2 separate regions of the Homo sapiens genome follow, and region 2 is linked to region 1. Evidence: fine-mapped expression QTL. Tissue or cell type: whole blood. Region 1 holds a variant in brackets; the other region holds the start of a gene. All regions are shown on one strand. Distances are from middle to middle.

The links. PIP is the estimated chance that this variant, and not a neighbour inherited with it, causes the effect.
Region 2: it holds the start of CLPB, and the variant in region 1 is fine-mapped to the expression of CLPB in whole blood (TOPMed, PIP 0.97).

Annotation. Positions count from the first base shown.
Region 1 is chr11:72,293,385-72,301,469 of GRCh38, forward strand. It overlaps CLPB (ClpB family mitochondrial disaggregase), which reads right to left. Exons shown (of 16, transcript NM_001258392.3): 12 at 2,108-2,264; 13 at 1,236-1,309; 14 at 941-1,060; 15 at 638-742; 16 at 1-231. It overlaps LOC124902708 (a long non-coding RNA gene), which reads left to right and starts at 6,579. Exons shown (of 3, transcript XR_007062766.1): 1 at 6,579-6,796; 2 at 6,982-7,077; 3 at 7,349-8,085. RefSeq lists an enhancer at 7,814-8,085. The variant C/T (reference allele first, on the strand shown) is at 4,671.
Region 2 is chr11:72,431,404-72,439,495 of GRCh38, forward strand. It overlaps CLPB (ClpB family mitochondrial disaggregase), which reads right to left and starts at 3,128. Exons shown (of 16, transcript NM_001258392.3): 1 at 2,669-3,128. The coding sequence starts at 3,071. RefSeq lists enhancers at 2,750-3,209, 3,273-4,079 and a silencer at 5,491-5,540.

The sequences.
Region 1 (8,085 bases):
CTTCTCAGGGTGCAGTGGTGCCCGGATGTCCAGTCTGCGAGTCTTGCTGTCCTTGTCGATGATCTCCAGACGCAGCTTGGGGAGGCGCTTCTCAGCCTGGGGTGAGGGCAGTTCTGGGCTTTTGAGTAGCTGCTTGTCTGAGTCCTCCACCGTGATGCGCAAAGTACAGCCCCCTGGCAGCAGGTCCTGCTCATAGGCTGCTGCCAGCTGGTTCACCACACGGCGTTCTACCTGTCGGTGGGGAGGTGAAGTGGTCACTCCCTCGGCCTGGACCCAGCTTGGAGGTCGGCCTCCATCACTTACTGCTAGGGCAACTCAGAGACCTCCTTTGAGCCTGAGCCTCAGCTTTCTCATTTGCCAATTGGGGCTAATAACAGCTAGCTCGCAGGACTGCGCTCAAGTTTCTGAGGCTCCCAGCCCAGTTCCCTGGTCCTAGTGGGGTTCATACTGGGCTACCCTCCAGCAGGGGTTTTACTTGGTGATCATGTGTTTATGGTTCTGAATGGGCATCCACTCTGGGTGTGAATATCCAGCAACCAAGCTATAGGGAGGCAGGCTGAGAGCTCAGGGACTGGGTCTGGGGGGCCCTGGGGAGGGAGGTGTGGAGGCGCCTCATTTCTCAGGCTCCTGTGCTCACCTCATGTTTGATGGAGCGGGCGCCATAGTGCACATTGTAGCCGTCGACCAGCACATCTGCCACCTCGCGGTCCCAGAGCAGCGTGATGTTGTGCCTTTGCTTGGCCTGAGATGGGTCAGATAGAAGCATGCCTGCATGTGGCCCACTGCTTTCCATCTCTTGCCACTCTGGCCTGAGGCCAGGGCCACTGGCCCCACACCACTGTGCTCCACCTTTTATGTGTGTGGGGGTGCCCCCAGTCCAGTGTTCCAGATTTCCAGTGGCTGGCTATCCCGCCCCCACCCATGGGCAGTTCCCTCTTACTCTCTTGGCCCAGAAGTTTAGTTCCTTGTTGACGAGTTGGATGAGCTCCGAGTGGCAGAAGGGGAGGAAGTAGACGATCTCATTGATCCGTCCCAGAAACTCATCCCTCCGGAAGTGAGCCTGAAGGGCCAGGTTAGGGGTGGGATGAGCTCAGTGACCCAGAGCGGGTTAGGGAAATTACCAGACACCAGGGGAAGACTGGGGAAATTATGGGGCTTCCAGATCTTTAGGATGGCTAAGATCACCCTCCCCCAACCTTAGGCTCCAGCAGGAAGTGCCAAGAAAGACCTCTTACTTTCAGGATAGGGCGAATCACATTCTCCTTGAAGTTCTTTGAGATGGTGATCTTGTCACTTATCTGGACATCCCCTGTGGAGAAGAATCATAAACTGCTTATTCCCCACATTCAGGGAACTTTGGGGGCTGTGCCTGCCCCTTGGCCTGCCCATGGAAAGAGCCCTGGTCCTGTCCATCTGTGTGGTCCTGGTCAAGGTCTAAGGCTCTCTGGGCTTCAGCCTGGTCTCCTCCTCTGACCAGGCACTTTCGGAGGCCTTTCCAGCTCTCAAGTGTATGAAGTCTGCGATTCCTCAGGGTGGGAGTTGTGTGAGGGAGGGAGAGGAGAGGAAACGTCAGGATTAAGACTTGAGTCCTGACTTGGAGGAAGGGGGCTGCAGGGCTCGATCTTGAATGGAAAAGGTGACAGACACAGCTTCCTGCCGGATGTGCTCCTTTTTTTCAGCACTCTCCATGGCCCACCTACGCAGGAAGCTGCCCTGGGTGAACAAGGCTGTGTCCACTGCCATAGAGTTTTCGATCTGCTGTCCCCTTCTTGCACCAAAGCATCTGTGTCTCTTGCATGTGCATCTCCTCAGTCCCCTAAGACACTGAGCAGCTTCTGGCCCCCCACCCTGGTGTAGCTCTGTCCATTCCTGCCTGGAGCCCTCTTATCACCCAACAGACTTGAGGCTTTCTTGAAGTGGGGTCTCTGTCTCTTTTGTCTCAACCCCCACTACTTGGTATGGTGTCTGATATCTGCTCAGTGTCAGCTAGGGACAGAGCTGCCCACTAGAACCTTCACCTGGGCCCAGGGCCCCAATCCCATCCTTCCCCAGGAGATAGGCTGGTGGCTTGGTCACTGGACCAGACTGCTCAGGTCAGCCGCCATACCCAGGTTTTCGGCAATACGGTTACGGCTCATCTCCAAAGCTTCCTGCCTCAGCTGCAGCGCGTGCTGTGCGATCTCGTCGCTGGCCACATTGGAGGTCATGATGAAGATGGCGTCCTTGCAATCAATGGTCTTCCCTTTTCCATCTGTCAGCCGGCCCTGGGAAGGGAAGGAAGGGAGTGTACAGTCAGGGAGCTATGTGCCTGGGCAGGCCTTAGCACTCTCAGTTCTCACCTCCTTCAGGAGGCCTCCCCAGAGCCCTGTGTCTCCCTCCAGCCCCAGCAGCCAGCTGCTTCCTCCTCTGGGTTCTCCGAGCACTAGACTTGCACCTTGGCTGCTGTGCTCACCGCCCTGCGCTGCAACTGCTCTCCCTACTGAGTGCCTCCAGGTGAGGCTGCAGTTGCTCTCTGGCATCTCTTGGGGCACCCAACTATCCCTGGCATGCAGAAGTCAGTCACAGTTAGCCATTCATTTGTGCAACCAACACATTTTTTGGAGGCCCGCTGTGGGCCAGGATCTGTGGTGGGGTACTGGGGTCCCACTGAGCCTACAACATGCTCCCAGTATAGAGAAGCAGTGAGATACAGGAAACAAGCACTGACCATCCAATATGTTACGTATGATAATAAAGGGAAGCCCAGCATGCTGCAGGAATTCAGAGGAGGGTACTTTACATGGCTACTGTCAGGACTAGATGTGGTTATCTGGTGAAAATTCTTAGTAAACCATGCTGTTCAAATGTTCAGAGCTATTATTACTGTAGTAGGTGATATATAATGAAACAGGACAACCTCTTTTATCTTTGGAGCTGCCGCCTGGCCTAACAGGGATAAAAAATGAGATTGCTTCTTTAACCACCTTGGGAAGTTTCCTTGGAATCTTCAGCTCTTTCTAGAAGGGACAAAGGAGGCATCTATACTGGAGAAAGATGCACCAAAGAAGGAGAAAAGGAGCAAACAGTATAGGGCAGAGACAGAAGAATGATAAAAGTACAGTGTTCTGGGACCAATCAGTTGAAGGGTACAGAGCCCCGCTCACTCAGCGAACCTCAAGGGCATGACCGTACAACAGCACTTTATGTCATTTATAACAAAAGCAATGATCAGGGACTCCTTGAGAGCAAGCAATAGAGTGACAATGCCGAACACGGACAGGGACTTCTACTTTCATCACAGATGCTCTGCTTAGTGCTTTTTGTGTACAACCCCACTCCTTCTACTAGGAAAGTGGCTCCTTGACAACAGAGGCTGGGTCTTGTTCATCACTGTGTCCCAGAACAGCGTCCGGTACAGAGTAGGTGTTTGACACCTGCTTGCTGGAGGCTGGAATCTTCACATCCACCCTTGGAGGTAGGTGCAGTTAGGACCCCTACAAAGAAACTGAGGCTCAGAGAGGATCATAACTTGTTCGAGGTTTCACAGCTAGGATACAGTAGAGGCGAGACTTGAACTATCTGACCTCAGAGCCCATGCCCTTCCTCTGCACCAGGCTACAGAGGTCAGACCAATGGTGCTGGATGAATGAGGCCTCGTGCTATTTTCTTTCCTTCGACAGAATTTTCTCAGAATTCTGCCAAATTCAGTTTGATCCTCACTGGAGAGATGCAACTGGGACAGGTGCTAGGGAGGAGATCTACCTGAGATTTCTTTTGGGAAGCAGAGAAAGCACAGCTCCCGCCAAGCCAGAAACCGTGGCTCTGGGGATATACATCACTGACCTCAGCCTGTTGGCTCCTGCCTGAGCCAGGGATGCTGGGCCCTGCCCGAGCTTCAGGGTTAGCCCTTGCTTCTAAAGCCAGTGTAATGGTAAACCCAGTCCTACTCCTTAGGAGCAAAGGAGAAAGGACTGTGCATCAACCGAGCTAGCTTACTGCATGCTGGGTGTAGTTTCCAGCCTTGCTTTCCACTGGACCTTGGCAGAGGCCTTTGAGAAACTGTTAATTCCCAAAGGGTCTATACACAAGGGGCCTGGTAATCCACATCCTGGAGCTGGTCACTCTGCTGTCCCTGCCTTGGGGCAGGAAAAGGGAAGCAAGGGTGCAAGCAGATGTCCTTGAGCTTTTACCAGCAGCTTTTCACTCTTACCCCACTGCTTATGGGTTCTAATCTAACAGATCCACTGAGGGCAGTTCTAGTTTTGGGGACCAGGTGTGTGTGTGTGTGTGTGTGTGTGTGTGTGTGTGTGTGTGTGTGTGTGTGTGTGTGTGTGTGTGTGACATGTCCAAGCATGTGCATATGACTGTGTGTGTGTTCCATACTCACTTTGCAGAGCTCATCCCTAAGGACTGGGTTCACACACTGCTATACTGGCCAGAGCAATAACCTAGCAGCAATTTCATTCTCAGAGATCAAAGCTCTGCTCATAACTGGGCCTGAGGATGGGTCCCAGGTGGGTGAGGGGAGCAGGTGCAGTGCATGACTGACCCAAAGGGTGACTTTCAGTGCTCATGTCTCCTCCTCAGTTTCCTTAGCAATAAAGATGTGTCTCAAACAGGAAGCTGTCCGTGCCTCACCTCCCTCTAACAACCAGAGCGTGCACATCTTGGGTGGGGCTTGAATGCTCACC[C/T]CAGGGTTATGGGGCTGCTTTCCCACTGTCTCACGTATGACTCCTTGGTGGGAGGAGTGGGGGCTGGGCTCTCTGGGGACTAGTCTCTTTCTGGGACTTCTGCCCTGGGGTCACCTGTGAGTGGCCAGCAGTAGACCTGCTTGGTGCTTTGATGAGAGCAATAGGGTTCTTACTTTTCTGGGCCCAGGCTTGGGAGAACTAGACTGGGTAGGGGTGAGGCTGCTTCCCTCACACCTCCAGCCTGGATTAGGTGCCCCTACAACTCCTGGCACTTGCTGCTTGTCCCTAGCGCAGCACCGACCACAGTGGACTGAACTACTTTTTAGCTGCCTGTCTCCGCACTCATTGGTCACGCCAAGGCCAGGGCTGCATCTGTTTTGTCAGTGTCCCCTCTACCCCACACAGCGCCTCATGAATAAATGAATGAGCCACATTCTTTTGGTTGGCTCTTTTTTGTTTTTGAGACAGGGTCTGGCTCTGTTGCCCAGGTTGGAGCGCAGTGGTGCAATCTCTGCTCACTGCAACCTCAGCCTCTGAGGCTCAAGCCATCCTCCCACCTCAGCCTCCTGAGTAGTGAGGACTACAGGCACATGTCACTATGCCCAGCTGATTTTTGTATTTTTTGTAGAGACAAGGTTTTGCCATGTTGCCCAAGCTGGTCTCGAACCCCTGAATTCAAGTGATCTGCCCACCTCGGCCTTCCAAAGTGCTGGGATTACAGGTGTGACCCATCATGCCTGGCCTGGTTTTGCCTCCTACTTCTCTGGCGAGTCTGTCTTGACTTCCCTGATAGGTCCCAAGGCTCTGTGTATAGCCCTCTTTTCTCTGCACATTATACACTCCCTGGGTTACAGACCTCATCCATTCCTGTGGCTTCCGTTAACCTCTCTGGGCTGAAGGATTCCTGAACTGCTATTTTCAGTCAGACCTTTCCTAAACTCCTGACCCATAAAACTGATGAACGGCCCCTTGGCCATCTCCATCTGGATGTCCCTCAGGTATCTCACCTTCAACATTTCCACACCTCAGTGCCTCACCTTCCTCTTCAATCTGCGGCTTCCCACTGTGTTCGCCGCCTTAGCTGATGGCCAACTGGCAGCAGCCAACTGGCCACCCTTGGCTCCTCCTCCTCTCCTCAGTCAACCTTCTAGTAGTTTCTCCAGCCCATGGCCTCCCCAGCTGTAGCTTGGGCTCCCCAGCAGTCTCCTTGTTAATGACCCTCTCCCTTCTCATCCATTCTTTACACAGCTGCCCACGGCATCTTTGTAAAGTGAAAATTTGACTGTTTCTTTCTTGCTTAAAGTCTTTAAAAGGCTCCTTACTCTCTACCAGAGAAATGCAAACTTCTGTGCCTGGCATTTTAACTGGGCCCTGTTTACCTTACCTACCTTGTCTCTAGCACTCTGTCCTTGTTTTCCCTCTGCAATCGAGCAGTACTGACCAGCTGCAGTTCCCTGAGCATGCCAGCCTGTTTCATGCCCTGTACTTTTATACATTAGGTTTCTACTGCCAGCCCCGCCACTCTGTTCACCTAGCACTTACTAACCCTTTGAAGGTTTGCTAACTACTGTTGAATTAAAACTACTGTTGAATTAAATTAGTCAATACAACATTTCCCCTGACTTTGTGGGCTCTGGGAATGGTTCAAGTGAACATGACAAGGGCCCATCCTCAAAGAGCCTAAATCGAGTAAACCTGGATGGCAGCTTTGGTCAATGGAACCAAGAGCATCAGAAACTATAGTAGGCTGGGGCTGGGGGAAGGGGCGACAACAGCTGCAGGAAGGAATTCCTATCAACCCCTAAAAGGCAGTCAGTGGAGTGAAGTGACGGAGGAGGGGGAGACAGGGCTTCCATGTATGGCTGATTGTACTTCAGTCAGCAGTTGCCTTCTGTTTTTTGGGCCAAGAATGCCATCAGAGGTGCCTCTCCAGGGAGACCAGAGATCAAACAGGCCGCGATGCTCACCCTCCCTCAGCGGCATGGTCCCGTCCCTTGCGTGCTTCACTGAGACGGACCTCGCTCTTTTGGCCCTAGCTGCGTGGCAGTCATTCAAGCTGCAGGATCTAGAACTGGGCTGCCTGGGTTTGAATCCTTGATTCTCTCTCCCCAGCTGCATGACCACAGGTAAATGACTTAATCTTACTTTGCTTCAGTTTCCACATCTGTTCAATGGAGGCCGTAATAATAGCTAGCTTTGGAGGGTTGTTGAAAGGGTTAAATTGATACACATAAGCCTCTGAAGACAGCGAATGGCACACAAAATGCAAAATGCCAGCTACTACCATGTCTCCTTTCCACCTGTCTACCAGGCAGAGAGCTCCAAGAGGGCACATTCGGGTCTGGTCATAGCTGTGCACTTGAATCCCATCAAGAGGCTGGAATGGAGTAGAGGCCTCAGTGTACACGTGAGTAACTGAGTATGTGACCTCTGAAGGACTGGTCTCTTCTTCCTCAGCAGAGGTTCAGGGGCAGGGAGCAGCTGAAGGGCTAGGAAGATACAACGGAACGGGCAGGGGCAAGGAGGCTGGGCCAGGTGGGGAAGGCAGTGAGCAGCTGGTAGGAGATCTGGATCTGGATCTTCCTGGCTTGGTACCTGATGTGCTGTTCGGTCTGGAGGAGTCCCCTCCCTGTGGCCTCCTATGACATGGGAAGCAAACCACCTTTTTGTTTTCCTAGGGCTGCAGGAGACTAGGTAGAAAGGTGAGCTGGACTCATGGCCAGGTGCTAGCTAATATAGCCCCTGCATGAGAGAAGAGAGGCCTCATCCCCGGTTCAGTCCTTGGCTCCTCACGCTCTCTTGATGGAGCAGGGCCCCTGAAAAGGTGGAAGTCATCTTCTTCCGTGATCGTAAGCAATCCCTCGCCTGGTTCAAGGTAAACAGTGGTATGGGGGGAGAATTGGGGCTCTGGGATCAGACATATCTGCAGCCCAATCTTGGCTCTTTACACAGCAGCTGTGGCCTTAGGCATGTCTTTTATAACCTCTCTGAACCTCAGTTTCTTCATCTGTAAAAAATGAGCTAATTTCTCCCTTGCCTGTTAGGAATTTTTCTACCTACCTTGTGAGGATTAGTGATAATGGCTGTAACGTCTTTAGTACAGGTCTAGTACACAGAAGGTACTGGATAGAAGTAAGCTCTTCTCTCCATTTAGAACTTACCCCTACGAGCAGGGGAACTGGACAGTCTGTGAGAACCCTCAGATTCTCAGAAGAGAAAGGCTCCATGAATCAGAGTATCAGCATCTCACCATTAGCAGCAACAATATTAGCATTTTAAAGAACTGCAGGAGACAATGTTTGGCACACAGGGAGGAACAAGAGCTGTCTGAGGCAGAAGGATTTTTGGGGCTTCTCTGATTCAGCCTCCTCGTTTGTCACATGAGATCTCTGATGCCTAGAGATGGGCAGTGACT
Region 2 (8,092 bases), 140 kb after region 1:
CTGGAGACAGTCAGACCTGGGGTCTAGCCCAGCTCTGTCGCTTATTTGCTGTATAACCTAGCCCACCTATCTAACCTCCTGAGCCTTAGTTTCCTTATCTGTACAATACACCTTATCATGCATATGAAAGCCAGTCCTGTGGTTCAGACATTGATGCCTCCTGGCCTAGATTCCAGGGACAGGTCCTTTCTACTTACCTTACCGGATGTACCTAAAGCACATACCCAAGCATGGCTCAGACAGCCACCAGCTGGGAGGGGATCAAGCCTTCCTTAGAGATGGCTATATCCACTCTCCCTTCACTCTGCAGAAAAAAATGTGGCTTCTACAAGGTTACAGAGTGAGGAATGAGCTAAGAACCAGGGCCTCCTGGCTTCTAAAAGGGTTCAGTTTCTACCACACTGCACTGAGGGTCAAAACTCTAAGTCAGGGGACAGGGTAGCTGGCAAGTCAGTTCCAGCAGGAACTGGTCACGGCTTTGACCATTATCTATTTTGGTAAATAGACCCTGGTATTCTTGCTGGAGTTCATAGGCCATAAAGTCCAGTTGGGAACCCCCAGGAACTTCTTAGGCAAGACCTCACCAAATACACTGGACTCAGAACATTCCCTGCTCATGAACCTTCCATAACTCTCCACTGCCTACAGAAGAAATTCCAACACCCTCACCTACCCCACCCCTGACTGGCATCCAGGCCCCACTCCATCTGCTCTCATCTAATTCCAAAGACCTTATCCTCCAACCAAGCTGGCTGCTCTGCTGGCCCCTGCACACACCATGGTGCCCCGAAACTGTTATTTCCATTCCCTGAAGCCTTTGCATGGAATATAATCCAACTCTCACACATTTACTGAGCACCTACTAAGTTCCAGACACTGTGGTGGGCAAATGATGTCTAGGTATTCGGGAAAGTTGCTAGTATAACCTGAAAAAACAAAAGAGAAGATACATTTCCTGCTCTCATGGGGCTCAAAAGATCACTCCCCTTTCCGTTTCTACTTCATCCTTCAGAACTCAAGTTCAAATTTCCCATCCTCTGGGGTCTCCAATACTCCAGAAAGGCTTTCCTGACCCTACTGGCCCTCTGATCCCCCAACGACACATAGCACCACTCACCAGCCCTACATTCCAACTGCCTGCACTGTCCCCTTGACTGATTTTGTGTTAAGTTAGGACTTCCCACACACCTAGCCTAAAACTAGACACACAGTGGGTACCCCCAAAAATGCTGGAAGTTATAGGATTACAACATGCCTAAGCTCGATGCCCTTAGTGTCTATTTCAAAACCCTCATTTTGTAGATGAGGAAACAGAGGACCCGTGAGGAGAAGCAAAAGTCCAAATTCACAATGAGAGTTAGACACAGAACCAAAACAAGATCCCCAGTGTTGTCTCTCCCAGACCAAAGTCCTTCCTTTACAATTGGCCACATCAAACGAATCAAAGTCAAGGCACTCCCTACTCCCCAACTCTTGCTCCAAATTCTCAGAGCTTGGGGTGCATGGAATCTATGGACACCATGCCTCAGTCTTTCTTCTTGAGGAACAACTAAGAACCTGAATGGCTGGACTCACATAGGTCATCAGTCTGGCTCTCTGTCCACTCTCTCAGCTGCTGCTTAGCTCCCCGGATCCAAATGAGATGCTAATCGGGATCAGCCAGTCCCCCAGCAGTTGCCCTTGGGCCTCCAGGAATCCACCTTCCTTCTCCTGCCAACTATCCCACATGGCAAGATCACCTCACAGCATGTGAGACCAGACACAGCAAAATCCTGAGACTGACAGACTCAGGCCGCTGAACTCCAAAAAGAGTCAAAATAACAGTACTGTAAAAATGTTGGGAAACTATCCTTCACTATATAAATAAAGAAATTGGTCAGACGCGGTGGCTCACGCCTGTAATCCCAGTACTTTGGGAGGCCAAGGCGGGTGGATCAGGAGGTCAAGAGATCGAGACCATCCTGACCAACAACTAAAAATACAAAAATTAGCTGGGTGTGGTGGCCCGCACCTGTAGTCCCAGCTACTTGGGAGGCTAAGGCAGGAGAATAGCTTGAACCCGGGAGGCGGAGGTTGCAGTGGGCCGAGATTGCGCCACTGCACTCCAGCTTGGCGACAGAGCAAGACTCCATCTCAGAAATAAATAAATAAATAAATAAATAAATAAATAAATAAATAAATAAATAAATTGAGGTCAAGCTGGCATTAGAACCGAGTCAGGTTGTTCCTGACTCTGGCACCTTTGGTGGCGGGGGGTAGGGGGGAGCGGTTTGGCAACTTCTCTAAACCATCTGGCGGTTGCCCTTAAAACACCCCATAATTTCCGTTTCCTGGAGATCTCAGGAAAGAGGAATTGGACCAGGCAGAATATGAGAAACATAAGGGGACCATGCTATAATATTAGATGTTTAGTCCAATATCCCCATTGTACAGATGGATAAAATGATGCCCAGAGAGGGGAAGCGGATCTATGGTACGAGATTATACAACTCCGAGGTGATGAGGTCTCTAGGGCAACACCCTGCCCCTGTAACCAGATGATGTCTGAGTCCCTCCAAGACTTAGGCTCTAAGGATCTAAACCTATAAGTACCTCCCACCCTCCTAAGATACGAAGTTAGGACAATCTTCCCGCCTCTCCCTTCCTCAAACCCAGATCTCATAATCACCCTTGTTGGACGGACTCTTGCTGTAGCAATGAACCACCAGCGCTGCGGCCAGGGCGCACATGCCCAGTCCGGCCCTGCTGGGGACCCCGTTCCAGCTGTCCTGTCCTGGGAGTGTTTCTTCGGGACCAGGAAGGCGTCCCCAAGTGGCAGCCGCGAGGCATTTGGTATCGAAGCGTCCTCCCTGGCGCCCCCCGGTGGCTGCCCCACGTCCGGAGAACAAGGCCGGCGATGTTCCAGGGCGCCCCCCGGTGGCTACCCTCAGCCACTGCGGCTCCCCGAGACTCCCAGTAGTCACATTCCGGCCGGAAGCACCTCCATGGCCCCGGAGCGTTGGGGACCTGAGCAGCCGGAGGAGTAGCCGTGGCGCCAGTGCTTTTCTCCTCAACACCAGGGACCCCAGCATCTTGACAGCTGCTTCGATAACCCCGTGGTGCCGGCCCCTGTGCTGACCACGTCCAACATGGCTGCCGCGGCGCGTTCGAAGACGCCGCGAACAGGGTGGAGTTGCGCACTACCTCACGGGAGAGGTAGTCCACAGCCCTAAGCCTTTCCCCAGCTGGAGAATAAATAAACTACGTTTCCCAGAAGGCTGTGGGATTGCGTCACAATGACTGCGGGATTATAGAAGCCCGGGGCATATTGGGAAATAGAGTTCGGGTGAAGGGGCGTGGCGATTAGAGTTAAAGATTAGAATCCCAAGACTTCTTTCCTAGTTTAGTTGAAGCACACGACACACTTTTTTTTTTTTTTTTTTTTTGAGACGGAGTCTCGCTCTGTCTCACAGGCCGGAGTGCCGTGGCGCGATCTCGGCTCACTGCAACCTTCGTCTCCTGTGTTCAAGCAATTCTCCTACCTCAGTCTCCCGAGTAGCTGGGATTACAGGCGCCCGCCACCATGCCCAGCTAATTTTTGTATTTTTAGTGGAAACGGGGTTTCACCACGTTGGCCAGGCTGGTCTCTAACTCCTGACCTCAGGCGATCCGCCCGCCTCGGCCTCCCAAAATGCTGGGGTTACAAGCGTGAGCCACCGCGCCCGGCCCACAATTTTTGACTGGTGTAAATTACCCAAGAATCTTCAGCAGAGGCATATTATGAAACTTATGCTTATTTAGTTTAGCCTATCTCTTTTTTCAGCCTGGGCGGCCTTTCAAAAAGATGTTTAGGGTAACTACTGCACCTGAGATAGGAATACATTTTATTTGAAGAGTTGACTTCCGGTCTTTTTTTTTTTTTTTTTTTTGAGACAGAATCTCACTCTGCCGCCCAAACTGGAGTGCAGTGGCGCCATCTCGGCTCACTGCAACCTCCGTCTCCCTGGTCCAAGCGATTCTCCCACCTCAGCCTACCGAGTAGCTGGGATTACAGGCACGCACCACCACGCTTGGCTAATTTTTGTATTTTTAGTAGTAGAGACGGGGTTTCACCATGTTGGCCAGGCTGGTCTCCAACTCCTGACCTCAAGCGACCCACCTGCCTCAGCCTCCCTAAGTACTGGGATTACTGGCGTGAGCCACTGCGCCTGGCCCTGATTGTGTTATTTTTAAAGGGCTTTCAAGTGGGTCATCTCATCTGATCCTCATGGCAGCTGTGTGTGAGAAGCTGGGCAAGAACTGTTATTCCCGTCTACAGTGAAGGGAATTGAGGCTCAAAGGTGAAAAGATTTGCCAGTAAATCACCTGGAGTAAAGTAATGCTCAGGTCTTCTGATTTTGAGCATATAGTTTCCATTAACACCTGCACTCCCATCCCGCCCCCTCTTTTCCAAACTGAACCCATAGGTAGGCAAAGGAGGAAGTTCTTCTTTGTGCCAGTTCTGTTTCTTCCAAGTCTTGTACGTCTGCTCAGACTTCACATGATCAGAGTCTTCCCTGACCATTCTGGTTAAAATAGTAATCCTACGCACCCCATCCTAATTTTCCTTCACAGCATTTATCACCATCTGACATACTACATTTTTATTGTCTTTCTCCACTACAGCATGAGCCCCATGAGACAAGGACTTTGTTTTTTCACTTTTATATCACTAGCACTCAGAACAATGTCTGGAACAAAAGAGGCACTCAGTTTTTTTATTTTTATGTATTTATTTATTTATTGAAGCAGAGTCTTGCTCTGTCGCCCAGGCTGCAGTGCAGTGGCACGATCTCAGCTCACTGCAAGCTCAGCCTCCTGTGTTCACGCCATTCTTCTGCCTCAGCCTCCCGAGTAGCTGGGACTACAGGCTCCCGCCACCATGCTCGGCTAATTTTTTTGTATTTTTAGTAGAGACGGGGTTTCACTGTATTAGTCAGGATGGTCTCGATCTCCTGACCTCGTGATCCACCTGCCTCGGCCTCCTAAAGTGCTGGGATTACAGGTGTGAGCCACCGCGCCCGGCCTGAGGCACTCAAATATTTTTTTCAGTGAATGGATTACTCTCACCTTATTAGTGTTGGAGAGTACTTGAGCTTTGGCATTCAGGCAGACGTGGATTTTAATTTTGACTCTTGCATTTATATGGGTGACCTTGGACAAACTCCCTTTACCTCTCTGGTAGTTAATTACTCATTGTTGAAGATATCAATTCCTGCCTTCAAGATGATTGCTTGTATTAAATAAGATAATATGTAGAAAGCCCCTAACACTGTCCCTGGCTCACAGTAGGTCTTCAAGAAATGGTAGCTATCATTGTATATTCTCTGCTCTGTGTATTCTACACTTCCTCCAGGCAAAGATGGAACTTCTCATTTCCACATCCGTTAGTAAGACAGGAATGAATGAGCGACTTTTTTGGTTTTTTTTGAGACAGGGTCACGCTCTGTTACACAGGCTGGAGTACAGTTGTTACTGCAACCTGAAACCTCCTGGGCTCAAGGGATCATCCCACCACCTCAGCCTCCTGAGTAGCTGGGACCACAGCTGGCACCACTACACCTAGCTAATTTTTTGTTATTATTATTATTATTATTATTTGGGTAGAGACTAGGTCTCGCTATGATGCCCAAGCTGGTCTGAACTCCTGGGCTCAAGCAGTCCTCCTGCCTCAGCCTCCTAAAGTGCTGGGATTACAGGCGTGAGCCACTGCGCCTGGCTTTAATAACTTTTTTTTTTTTTTGAGATGGAGTTTTGCTCTTGTTGCCCAGGCTGGAGTGCAATGGCGCGATCTTGACTCACCGCAACCTCCGCCTCCCAGGTTCAAGCGCTTTTCTTGCCTCAGCCTCCCGAGTAGCTAGGATTACAGGCATGTGTCACCACACCTGGCTAATTTTTTTTGTATTTTTAGTAGAGACGGGGTTTTACATGTTGGTCAGGCTGGTCTCAAACTCCCAACCTCAGATGATCCACCTGCCTTGGCCTCCCAGAGTGCTGGGATTACAGGCGTGAGCCACCGTGCCCAGCCTTGAATAACTATTTTTAAATCATTTTTAAAGCACTCAATAATGAAAGCATTTTGACCTTTCTGTTTTGAGAGATTTTCAGCACATATTATTTTGTTAACCACCCCATTCACTATAGCAACTTCACCTTCCCTGTATTCTTGAAACATTTCTGTCTCCCAACTTAGGGTGGTCACAGCAGGAAGAGCAGTCTCCGAAAGCTCCCATTACCAGATGCAGAGTTCAAACCCTCTCACTGCAGACACATCCCAGGGCCCTTCAGTTTACTTAGCAATGCATAATTTTCAAAGCACTTCCCCATTGATTTTCTTATTTTATTTTCACAGATACCATCTGCGAGGGGTTCAAGGAAGGGTTTAATTACTATCAGTATTTGGTAGGGATACTGAAAAGCTTAAATTATCAATCTCTGAGTGGGGGATGTAGTGAGGAAGTATGGAAACACCCATTAGGGTCGTGTGTGCTTGCTCACGTGCCTGTAATCCCAACACTTGGGGCAGGAGTTTGAGACCAGCCTGGGCAACATGGTGAGATCACAGTCTCTGCAAAAAATAAAAAATTAGCCAGGCATGGGGGTGTACACCTGTAGTTCTAGCTACTCAGGAGGCTGTGGCAGGAGGATCCCCACACTACTGCACTTCAGTCTAGGCAACAGAGTGAGACCCTGTCTCCAAAAAAAAGAAAAATAAACTAAAATTAAAACAAACAAAAAAACCCCACCCATTAGAATCAGCTGGGACTCAGAGTGAATTCTGTATGGTCAATAACCAATCCAGGGCCAGGCACAGTGGCTAATGCCTATAATCCCAGCACTTTGGGAGGCCGAGTTGGAAGGATCATTTGAGGTCAGGAGTTCGAGACCAGCCTGGCTAACATGGTGAAACCCCGTCTCTACTAAAGATCCAAAAAATTAGCTGGGCGTGGTGGCACACGCCTGTAATCCCAGCTACTCAGGAGGCTGAGGCAGGAGAATTACTTGAACCCAGGAGGCGGAGGTTGCAGTGAGCCAAGATCGCGCCATTGCACTCCAGCCTGGGCGACGGGGCGACTCCGTCTCAAAAAACAAACAAACACACAAAAAACTCTTAGGTCACATTTTAACAGATTTTCAACGCAGGATGGCTTCCTTTTGGTCTGCTCAGAAAGCAAAAATTTATATCAGGTTCCAATGACCCCACCTTGGCCCTAAGCTTCTAACTGTTGGGTTGGGAGAGAGAGAACTCCAGTTTTAGTTTGTAGGAAGGTGACTGGGGGATATCTGAATGGGGTTTAGGAGGAGACAGAAAGTGAAGAATCAATGCAGTTGCTGTGGTCAGCTGCCTCTGGCATGGAGTTGGAGGCCATTTGGTGCTACACATTCTATAGGTTTCTGAGAAAAACTTTTCCAGAAAAAGAAAACAAAACAACAACACACACACACATTTTTAAACAAATAAGTAAATAGATAGTAGCTGGGCTTTTCACTGTTGGAGAAAGAAGTTATAAATAGGGAAAAAAAGAAAGCTAAAATGAACCTTGTGGTATTGAATTGGAATCAGATGTATCAGCATAAACTCATGGCTTTAATTTTATTTTTACTTTATTTATTTTTGAGACGGAGTCTTGCTCTGTCATCCAGGCTGGAATGCAGTGGCGCGATCTTGGTCACTGCAGCCTCCGTCTCCCAGGTTCAAGTGATTCTCCTGCCTCAGCCTCCTGAGTAGCTGGGATTACAGCAATGTACCACCGCCCAGCTAACTTTTGTATTTTTAGTAGAGACAGGGTTTCGCCATGTTGGCCAGACTGGTCTCGAACCAGCCTGATTGGTCTCAATTGGTTATTGACCATATGGTTTTGCCACGTTGGCCAGGCTGGTCACAAACTCCTGACCTCAAATGATCTGCCTGTCTCAGCCTCCCAAAGTGCTAGGATTACAGGTTAGAGCCACCATGCCCAGCTGTAAAACTCATGGTTTTTAAAAATAGATACAGACAGATCAATACAGAAATATAAATATGTAAGTATGTATGGGTTCGTGTATTACATATATTACCTAGCCTCTGGGAGGG